Linked DNA regions of Homo sapiens: region 1 is linked to region 2. A link means that fine-mapping ties the variant in region 2 to the expression of a gene that starts in the linked region. Tissue or cell type: whole blood. Region 2 holds a variant in brackets; the other region holds the start of a gene. All regions are shown on one strand. Distances are between the middles of the regions.

The links. PIP is the estimated chance that this variant, and not a neighbour inherited with it, causes the effect.
Region 1: it holds the start of RNF175, and the variant in region 2 is fine-mapped to the expression of RNF175 in whole blood (TOPMed, PIP 0.98).

What each region holds. Positions count from the first base shown.
Region 1 is chr4:153,757,987-153,763,135 of GRCh38, forward strand. RNF175 (ring finger protein 175) reads right to left here and starts at 2,038. Exons shown (of 9, transcript NM_173662.4): 1 at 1,811-2,038. The coding sequence starts at 1,876.
Region 2 is chr4:153,874,035-153,879,183 of GRCh38, forward strand. The region is part of intron 3 of LOC101927947 (a long non-coding RNA gene); the gene reads left to right. Among named protein-coding and RNA genes, the nearest start is that of SFRP2, 88 kb to the left of the region's middle. The variant A/G (reference allele first, on the strand shown) is at 2,984.

The DNA of each region.
Region 1 (5,149 bases), 120 kb before region 2:
GTCCTGGAAATACAGGAGCGAGCAAGGCAGACCACATGGCTTTTCTGCTGGAGCTTTCATGCTGAAGGAGGTTCTTAGACAATCAAATACACACATAGACATACTTCAGGTAGTGATAAGGGTGATGAAGGAAAATAAAATAGGGTGAGGTTCAAACCAAAGGGAAGCTATCAGATAATAGGCTGGTCAGTAACTATCTCTGTTTTCACTTTCTTATCCCTAGCTCTAGTAAAGTCAAGAAACCAGCACTTCTTGAACTTTGATGTGCAAATGAATCACCCTGGGATCTGGTTAAAATGCGGATTTCAATTCAGTGGGTCTGGCGTGGGAACTGAGACTGCATTTTTAACAGGCTCCCAGGTAATGCCTTGGCTGCTGGTTCCTGGACCACACTGTCTTGCCATATGGGATTAAGGGAAAAGCTGTGAGTCCCTCCTAGGGCAGCCTCAACAGAGAGGCCATACCTCCTGAGGGCAGCAGACTAGGCAGTGATGCCAGCCTTAAGGAAGAGCAAAGATCAGCAGCAAATCCACCAGTACTAGATCCTCTGACACTCCTGGCATGCATTCATCAATTCAGAACCTCCCTTTCGATAATCTGGGTTTGAAACCAGCAAGAAAGTCATGGAGTTTCATTTTAAGTTTCCCCATTTTGTGGTACACAAGCCCCTCCACAGCCTAGCCCACCCTTATTTTTTGCTATAAGCATTCCTGACCCCTAGGTTTCTGGCAGTCAGAGTGGACAGTCCCCTCTCTCTGCCTTGTCCCATGGCCATCCATCCCAATATTAAAAAAAAAAAAATCTCCAAGCCATTTGGTACTGTTGTTCCCTCCATCTAGAATTCTCTGGCCCATGAGGTCAGATCCTGTCCATTCCCCAACACCCAGCTCGAATGCCACGCCCTCACGGGTTGGAGGAGAAGGGGGTTAGTCAGGAGCAAGCCCTTCTCAGAAATCCTACAGTTCTTTGCCTGAACCTATTTTGGGACATTAATCTCTTCCTACCCGCTCTGTGAGTGATTTTTGTTGTTGTTTAAGAGTTATCTTTGCCCTTAAGAGTTATTTTTGTCCTCGTTTTACGGATGGGATTTGGGTTCCTCCAGGTAAGACCTACCCTCCTCCACCCCCAAATCCTCCTGGTACCTGGATGTAGCCTAAGAAGAATTGTCCTATGAACGAAGAATAAATTAAGATTGGGTTTGCAATTGACGCCAGCAGAAGCAGAAATGGGCTAGGTTGAGCACCAGGCAAGACAAGCTGACGATCAGGGTACACATCTTGAATCAGAAACCCTGGGCACAGACCAGCAGTCTGCGTGGTAACAGGCCCTCCGAGTGATTCTGATGACACTCGAGTTTGAGAACCAGGGCGGTCTAGCCAAAAGCCTGCAGTACACCCCTTCCCCTCTCTCGCAGCTTACGACCTTGACCCTGGGCTCTGGGGGCTTCCGCCGAGGAGGGAGGAGGGCACAGGCGGTCACAAAGGAGGGCGGGAGTGGAAGGGGTGAGCCTGGAAGAGAAAGTGCGAGGATGCGAGAAGAGGGATGGAGCGAAGGAAGAGGATCAGAAGGAGGAAAGGAAGGTAGCGGGGAGGGCACAGAAGTGGGGAGGGAGGGAGTGGAGGAGGGACTGGCACCCCGCACGGTGGCATCTTCCAGAAGGTCATGCGTCCGTCCCCACGTCTTTCCAGGGCCGGTTCTCCCCGGTGGGGCCCGGGGTCTTGGAGACCAGTCTGTGCAGCCTGCCCGGCACCAGCGTGAGCCCCGGGACCCCGGCCTGGCGTCCCCCACGCCCGCGCCCCCGCGCCAGTACCTGCTCCTGCTGCGGGGGGGCCTCCAGCACCGGCGCTGCCTTCCGCGCCGCCGTCCCCGCGGCCATGCCTGAGCCACTGTGCCTTCTCCAGGGCACAGCGCCTGCCGGGGAGGGTCCCGCAGAGTCCGCAGAAGGAGGCGCCGCGGGGCCTCGGGAGCCGAGGGTGAGAGCCGGATCTGCGGCGGCGGCGGAGCGGCGGCCCTGCCCGGGTTGTGCGGGGCGGGAGATGGGAGCCTCCCGGCACGCCCCGCCTCCGCCCCCTGCACGCTGGCCAGCGTCCTCCCCAGCAGCGGCCTCGAGGTCCCGGTCGCCAGCACCCCGGTTCCTTCAGAACCTCAGGCCTCCCATTCAGCCAGCCATTGTCGCCGATAAAGCGTCTTGAGCCCTACCGGGTGCGTGTGGCGGGAACCCCGGTTTTGTTACCGGGCGGCAGGACTGGAGGAGGGGTCAGAGGTGGGTAGGGAGAGAGAGGGGAGTAGAGGAGTGAGAAATGGCGGTGGGGGGGCGAGGGGTGCTGGGGAGGAAGAGAAGAGAGAGAGAGAGTTTCCTCTCCCTCAGAGGTGTTTATTAGGAGGCAGGAGTTCGGGTGGCTGTGCAGATACAGACTTTCCTCAGTTATCTGTGCTTCCTCCAAAGATGATGAAGGAGAGAAACTCCAATCTAGGGAGAGCGCAGACCATCTTGGCCCCTATGCTGCTCCAGGCCATGCAGGGCCCCTGCGACGCAAGCATCTTGCCTTTGCCCCTCTACCTCCAGGGTCTCCCCTCCCGCCTTTACAACTTAGGCCTAAGCCTGGCTTCAAGGTTGAGAACAAGCTGGAACGTTTAGGCAAGCCTTTAGAAATACCTGGGTGTTGATTTGGGGAAACAGAAAAGAGGAGCACAGAATTAGATGATGTGTCCTACGAAATACAGCTTACCCCTTTCCAGTTTGTGATGGCTCGTATTTGTCAACACCTACAAAGGAGGTGAACAGACCAAGATGGACATTTCTCTGCCATTGTGGAACGTAGAGCCTAACAGGGGATAGAGAAAAATAAGCATCTAAGTACAATTTATCACGGATGGTGCCTTGGTTTTCCAGCCTTAACTGGGCATCAGAATCCTATGGAGGAATGCTGAGTTTGTTAAAACTCAGAGTGCTGGCCAAGCACAGTGGCTGATGCCTTTAATCCCAGCACTTTGGGAGGACAGGGCGGGCGGATTGCTTGAACCTAGGAGTTTGAGACCAGCCTAGGCAACATGGTGAAGCCCCATCTCTATAAAATATACAAAAGTGAGCTGGGCGTGGTACACCTGTAGCCCCAGCTACTCAGGAGGTTGAGGCTGGAGGATCGCCGGAGCCCGGGAGGTTCAGGCTGCAGTAAGCCGTGATGGAACCACTGCACTTCTGCCTGGACAACAGAGCGAGACTCTATCAAAAAACAAAACAAAAATCTTCAGATTGCTGGAGTTGAGCCCTAGAGTTTTTAATATAGTAGGTCTAGGGTGGAGCCTGAGCATTTGTCTTTTGAACAAGTTTTCAGGTGCCGCTGGGGCTGTTACCTACATCTGAAGACTACCTTGTAGCATGATCAGAGTGTGTTGGAAAGAGTGTCTGAGATGGAGAGAACAGTGGATGCAAGGGCCGGAATGCTGGAGAAGGCATAATGAATTGGAGAAATAAAAATCATGGTTAACATTGATAGAATGCTTACCGTGTGCCAGGTGCCGTCCTGAGCACTCTACCTGTGTTAGCTCATTCAGTCTTCCTGACAATCCTGTGAGGTGGGCATTGTGACCGTCCGTGTTTTACACGGGAGAACACTGAAGCACAGAGAGGTCCAGAAGTTTGTTCAAGTTTTGAAGCTAATAGGTGGGGCAGTGGGAATTTGAACCCAGACAAAACTGACTTCATGGTCTGGGTTCTTAATCTCTCAAGGAAGTAGCTGCGAAGGTCAGCAAGGGCCAGATCCACATAAATCATATTAAACAGTTTGGACTGTAGCCTCAGGAGAATGAGAAGCCATTACCGAGTTTTAAGCAAGAAAATGACATTACCAGACTTGCCTTTTGGCTTCAAGAGTGGGGAAGAGGGCTATGACTATGACTCAAGACAGAGAGACCAGCCAGAAAGCTATTGCTGTAGTTTCAGCTCTAAGGATGACAGTGGCCTTGGTGGTGAGAGTGTGTGCGGGGACAGAGTGGAGGGGAGATGGAGAGATGTGTTTGGGGATGGGAGATCTAGGTAATAGAATCTACTGTACTTGACTCATCTCCAAGGATGGTGCCCAGGCATGTGGCTTGGGCAGTCTAGCATTTGGGCAGACAGTGCTGCCATTGCTGAGAATGGGAACATTGAAAGAGCAGCAGATTTGGGGACACAAAAATAGTGGGTTCATTTGGACATGTTACTTCTCTACCTATCTTGTGGCCTGCCTTCATGTGGCAAGAGCCATTTTTTCTCTCCAGCCCAGGATATCCTCACATTCATCTAGATTCTCCCAAGGCAGCAAAATAATAAAATGAAAATAGTCCATATGGAGATAGATGTTCCCTTTCTATAAAATTCTGACCTGTTATTGTTATATAAGTCTCAGGTCCCAGATTTGAAACTCTCTCTCCTGATTGATTGGCACCAAAAAGACCCACATACTTCACTGGAGACCCATGTATGCACAAAGGTATCATCTTCCTTCTGGCTTCAGCTCAGCAATCATATCAGAATAAAACTCAAAAAGTGCATTTCTTCCCCATCAGTAACGATGGCTTTGCTCTAATCTATCCTCCTCTTATACCTGGTTTCTTCTATGATCAAATTGCAGATATTCAGAATGAATATTTAATTTCCCAGTCAGTTAGGCAATGCTCTCTGGAGTAGTTCACTGAAACAAGGTTAATTAATTTGAAATTTTGTTTTCCAAATCAAATGGTTGGCGGCTGACTCTGTCTTCTGTCCTGGAATAGATGAACTGTATTCTGCTGCTTAACACTAATCTCTTCAGCATTTTATCTGTAGTCTGTGCATCCTTCTTCATGTCCCGCAATGTAGAGTCCTGAGGTGGTTGTAATGATGTAATGGAAGAAATTAGCTAATGTGGTAAATGTGTTTGAGAAACAAGGTGGGGTCAAGAATCACTAGTCAGTTGATTGTCATATTTGGTGCAGGAATCAACAGACTCAAGGAACAGAATGGGCACATACATTTATGGAAAACTAGTTTCATGAGAGGAGTAGCAAATCAGCAGAAAAAAATAGATTATTTAGTAACTGGTTTATCCATAAGAAAAAAAAATTATACCATACCAGCACAAAACTGGTGGTTAGAAAGCAATAGTTTATCTAAAAGAATGTTTTTATG
Region 2 (5,149 bases):
AAGGTCACCCAAGGACACTGATAGTGATGTAAAGGAAATTCCTGTTGTTTTAGTGCTTGCTAACACAGCATCCATTCTGCAGCCCACAGATCAAGGAGTAATTCCAACTTTAAAATCTTATCATCTAGGAAATACATTTTGTCAGGCTATAGCTGCCACAGATAGTGACTCCTCAATGGATCTGGGCAAAATAAATAGAAAACCTCTGGAAAGGATTCACCATTTGAGATGCCATTGAGAACATTCATGATTCACGGGAGGAGGTCAAAATATCAACATTAGCAGGAGCTTGGGAGAAGTTGATTCCAACCCTCCTGGATGACTTTGAGGGGTTCAAGACTTCAGTGGAGATAGTCACTGCAGATGTGGTGAGATAGCAAGAGAGCTAGAATTAGTAGTGGAGCCTAAGATATGGCTAAATTGCTGCAATCTCATGATAAAACTTGAATAGATGAGCAAAAAATGTGGTTTCTTGAGATGGAATCTATTTCTGGTGAAGATGCTGTGAACGTTGTTGAAATGACAACAAAGGATTTAGAATATTACATAAACTTAGTTGATAAAGGATTTAGAATATTACATAAACTTAGTTGATAAAGCAGCAGCAGGGTTTGAGAAGATTGACTCTAATTTTGAAAGAAGTTCTACTGTAGGCAAATTACTATCAAACAGCACCACATGCTGTGGAGAAATCTTTTGTGAGAGTCAATTGATGAAGCAAACTTTATTGTTACCTTATTTTAAGAAATTGCCACAGCCACTCCAACCTTCAACAACTACTACCCTGATCGGCCATCAGCCTTTAATATGGAAGTGAAACTGGCAAAATGATTATGATTCACTGAAGACTCAGATGATAATTGGCTTTTATGTTTTAGCAATAAAGTATTTTAAAATTAAGGTATGTACTTTGTTTTTTTCAGGCATAATGCTATTGCACACTTAGTAGGCTACAGTATACAGTATAAACATAACTTTTATATGCACTGGGAAACCAAAATGTTTGTGTGACCCAAAATATTTGCAATATTCACTTTTTTTGCAGTGGTCTGGAACTTAACCTGCAATATCTCCAAGGTATACTTGTGTGTTATAAATATATATATGTGTGTATATGTCTATACATACATATGTGCATATACAGACACACACATACATATATGCACTAAGTTATCACATATCACAAGTGAACAGCTTGATAAATGTTTAATACTGAACTCACTCATCTAACCAGCATTTGGATAAAGCCATAGAATATCACCAATACCCTAGAAGCCCTTTTGTGTTCCTTTAAGTCATACCCCTCCCCGAGGGTGGCCACTGTCCTCTTCCTAATAGCATAGATTAGTTTTACCTGTGTTGTGTTTTGTATATGGAGTCATATGATATGCACTATTTTGGTTATATTTTGTTTAATCACTTTGATTTGGATGTATACATTGACTCATGTCAGTCAACATTTGAATAAAACTACGAGAAGCCCTTTTCAAATGTTGAAAACATGTTTTTTGAGACACATTTAAGATATATATTCCAATTTCTGCTTCTCAAAAGCTCTCAATTCTTTTAGGGCTTTTCTCTAAACTCTAGAGCATCACAGCCAGTGAGAGCGAAGAGATATGAAAAATAGAATATAAAATATTAATATTTATGTTACTTATGTCTTGAAATAATATTTTGGATATATTGAGTTAAATAAGACATATTATTAAAATTAATTTTGTCTGTTTCTTTTGACTTTTTAAAATATGGCAACTAGGAAATTAAAGTTACCTTTGAGATTTGCACTGTATTTCTATTAGAAGCATTGATTTAAAGTGTCAGCAGGACTAAGAGAGACTCAGTGAGTTGAACAGTAAAGATTCCAAGTAACATCCTCTCTATGAGACCATCAAACTTTTTAATTTGTCCCTGAGAAAGGGTCTTGCTCTAACTCTTGCACAAAAGGCGATGTGTCTATGGTTCCCAGATTTGGATGAGATGGAGACTCGCTTGCCTTCCTATGTATTTTGCCACATTTTCAAAACCAAGTTACTTCATAAATGCATCAGTTTAACCACCAGTTTCTGCATATGTCATGTTTGTCCTGACTCCTGTCTAGCTTCCTGTGGCTCCTATCAGTAGGAAGGGACTCCTTTCTTCTGTCTGAACCATCAGATTGCACCTGTCCCTCACCTCTTCTCTCTGCCCTCTTTTCTAGCTGGAAAGCTAGAATAGGCACAGATTCCAAAAGACTTAATTTGCAAAATTTGTTGCAGGTCGATGTTTGGTTCTCAGTGTACATTTTCACTTGGAAGCAATGTTTTTTTTGTTTGTTTGTTTTTGCTTTTTTTTTTTTTTTTTTTGAGATGGAGTTTCGCTCCTGTTGCCCAGGCTGGAGTGCAATGGCATGATCTTGGCTCACTGCAACCTCTGCCTCCCGGGTTCAAGTGATTCTCCTGCCTTAGCCTCCCGAGTAGCTGGGATTACAGGCACCCACCACCATGCCTGGCTTATTTTTGTATTTTTAGTAGAGACAGGGTGTCACCATGTTGGCCAGGCTGGTCTCAAATTCCTGACCTCAAGTGATCCGCCCACCTCAGCCTCCCAAAGTGTTGGGATTACAAGGCGTGAGCCACTGCGCCCAGCAGAAGCAATGTTATACATTGAGTCTGAGGTCTTTGGCCAGTTGATGAGGCCTATTTTACTCATAATATATCTGAAGTATAGTATTTACATTTCTATTTCACACACGCTAATCAGAGGTGCAGGAGACATAGTAGCTCAGTCCTTGTCATAGGGGAGGGGAGGGTGGATAACTGCACACTGATGATTTATTCATTCTCTGCATAAAAGGAGAAATTGTAATCACTTAAGCATTCAACTTGGGTGAAATAGAGAACTGCTGCTCTGGACATAGAATCCATGAAAAGGTTAGGTTAATTATTGTGCTTCCTGTTTATAACATTAAAAAATACATTCTCACTCTCATTCAGCACCTATC[A/G]CTTACTTAATTAGCATCTATTTACTTCTAGTCAGTTGTATAAGAGAGTAACACTATCTAAGTTTTTTGAGCCATGACTTTCAAATGTACTTGACTTTTTTGCTTTTCACAAATACCCCATCTCTCTCTCTTTGTGTAACAGTGGTCACCAGCTGGGAAATGGATGAGAAGGCCACATCCTTAAGGCACTAATTTTTGCTCTGAGTTTCTTTTCTTTTCCTTTTTTTTTTTTCTGAAGGGTTCTACAAAGTACCATACTCTTAGGCTGGTCTTTACTTTGTGTCACTGTGGGCCCTTGACTCTCAAAATCCTTCTCTATTTCTGGGAGAAGAAAATCTGGGATTGAAAAAACTGTAGACTTTTCTATCTTTGCAACACCACCTGCATTTCTGAAAGGCTTATTTGCAAACCAGGCAATTCCTTCTTGAATACATTTATTTCTTGTAATTTCTTGTCAATCACAATCAATAACAACTAACACACATTACTAAGTTTCTGTTTTCTAACCTGTTCCCCCTTAGGCCACCAAGTGCATTAAGTACGTGGTCTACTTCCCTGATTACTGCAGGCAACAGTTACCAAAGGTGACAACAGTGATTATCTTTAAAGCTTCTCATATCAGTTTTCTACTGCCTGCTGCCTAACCACGAATGTCACCTATTTTAAGTTTTTTTTTAAACATCAGCATTTTACAACTGCATATCCATATCTGTGTCAAGATAGACAAAATTATAACATTTTGTATTTACTAACCTCAGAGGCTTAACACACAAAGAATTATTTCTTGATTAAACAAAATTCTGTTAGGCAGAACACAGAATTCTCCAAGAAACCCTCCAAGAAAGCTTTCTTCTTGTGGTTCCATAGGATTGAAATTGCTTCTCTATTCTGGCCCTGGACCTCAACTCATAACCCCCACTCCACATCTAAGGAGGAAGAGAAAGCAGGAGGGTCATGTTGCTTAGGAAGTTTCTAAGTTAAGGAGTGACTTACATCCTCTGAGAAAACTGCATACTGTAGAGTGTTTCTCCATACTCTCTCACAGAACACTTCTGACACCAGATGTGCAAGTTTTTCCCTCACCAACACCAGCTGGGTGTCCCACAGTTCAATTCAATTCTGACATTATCTGTCTGGAATTAGTGCAGACCTCACAGCTTAAGGGCTCAGTGCCACAGGACTTTTCCCACTTCAGATGCCAATTGCAAATCCAGGACTTCTGATTGACTGGCTGTATATTGGGGATTCCCATGACCCCTTCCTTGCTTCAATAGTTTGCTAGAATGGCTCACGAGAACTCAGAGAAACACTCCACTTACATTTACTGATTAATTATAAAGGATGTAGAGGGCAAAGTATGGATAGGGCAGTAGAGCTTCCAGGCTGTCTCCAGGATGTGCTACCTCACAGCAATTCCACGGGCTTCTTTGGCAGACCAGAAGCCCATCTAATCATGTTATTCAAATTTGTATGGAGTTTAAGTGCATGCCCACCCTTCGCCTTCCTGGAGATTGGGAGGTGGGACTGAAAGTTCCAACCCTCTAATTACTTGGTCATTCTGGTGATCAGCCGCATTCCAAGGCTATCTAGGGGGCCCCACCCTGAGTCACCTCATTAGCATAAACTCAGCATCCCTACATTTTCCATTTTCCAGAGTTCTGGATGTAATTTAGGTTCATTCAATTAGAGGTACCTGTATGAGGTTTGGAAAATGGAAATAAAATGAAACCTCATGAGACCAGACTCATATTTCTGTTTCTTTCGTGGCAAGGAATGGCCATGAAAGTATTTGATTTTTCTGTAGTAACTGTAGTAGAGGCTCCAGTGCCTTATTCCTGGCTTCATGGCTATTGGGAGGCAGAGGATAGAAGATACATTTTGCTGGAGTGGATTGTGACAAAGGTGGCATGGTTCTGTGTCCACTATCTAAAGTGATGGTTTCCAATTTCACCTGGAGTCTTCCTGATTTTACAGCATTTTGGTCGTGGCAGAGGTATTGGCTTCCTTGGTGGCCTGGTTCTGTCATTCCTGGAAGCTTAGCCTTAAGTCTGTCTTTTCAAGTTTCTCATTTACTTGGCAAGCCATTTTATAACTTCTTATAAAATTCCCTTTCTACTTAAGTTGGCTAGAAAATTTGGGCCTAGTTTTCAGAAGATTTTATATGAT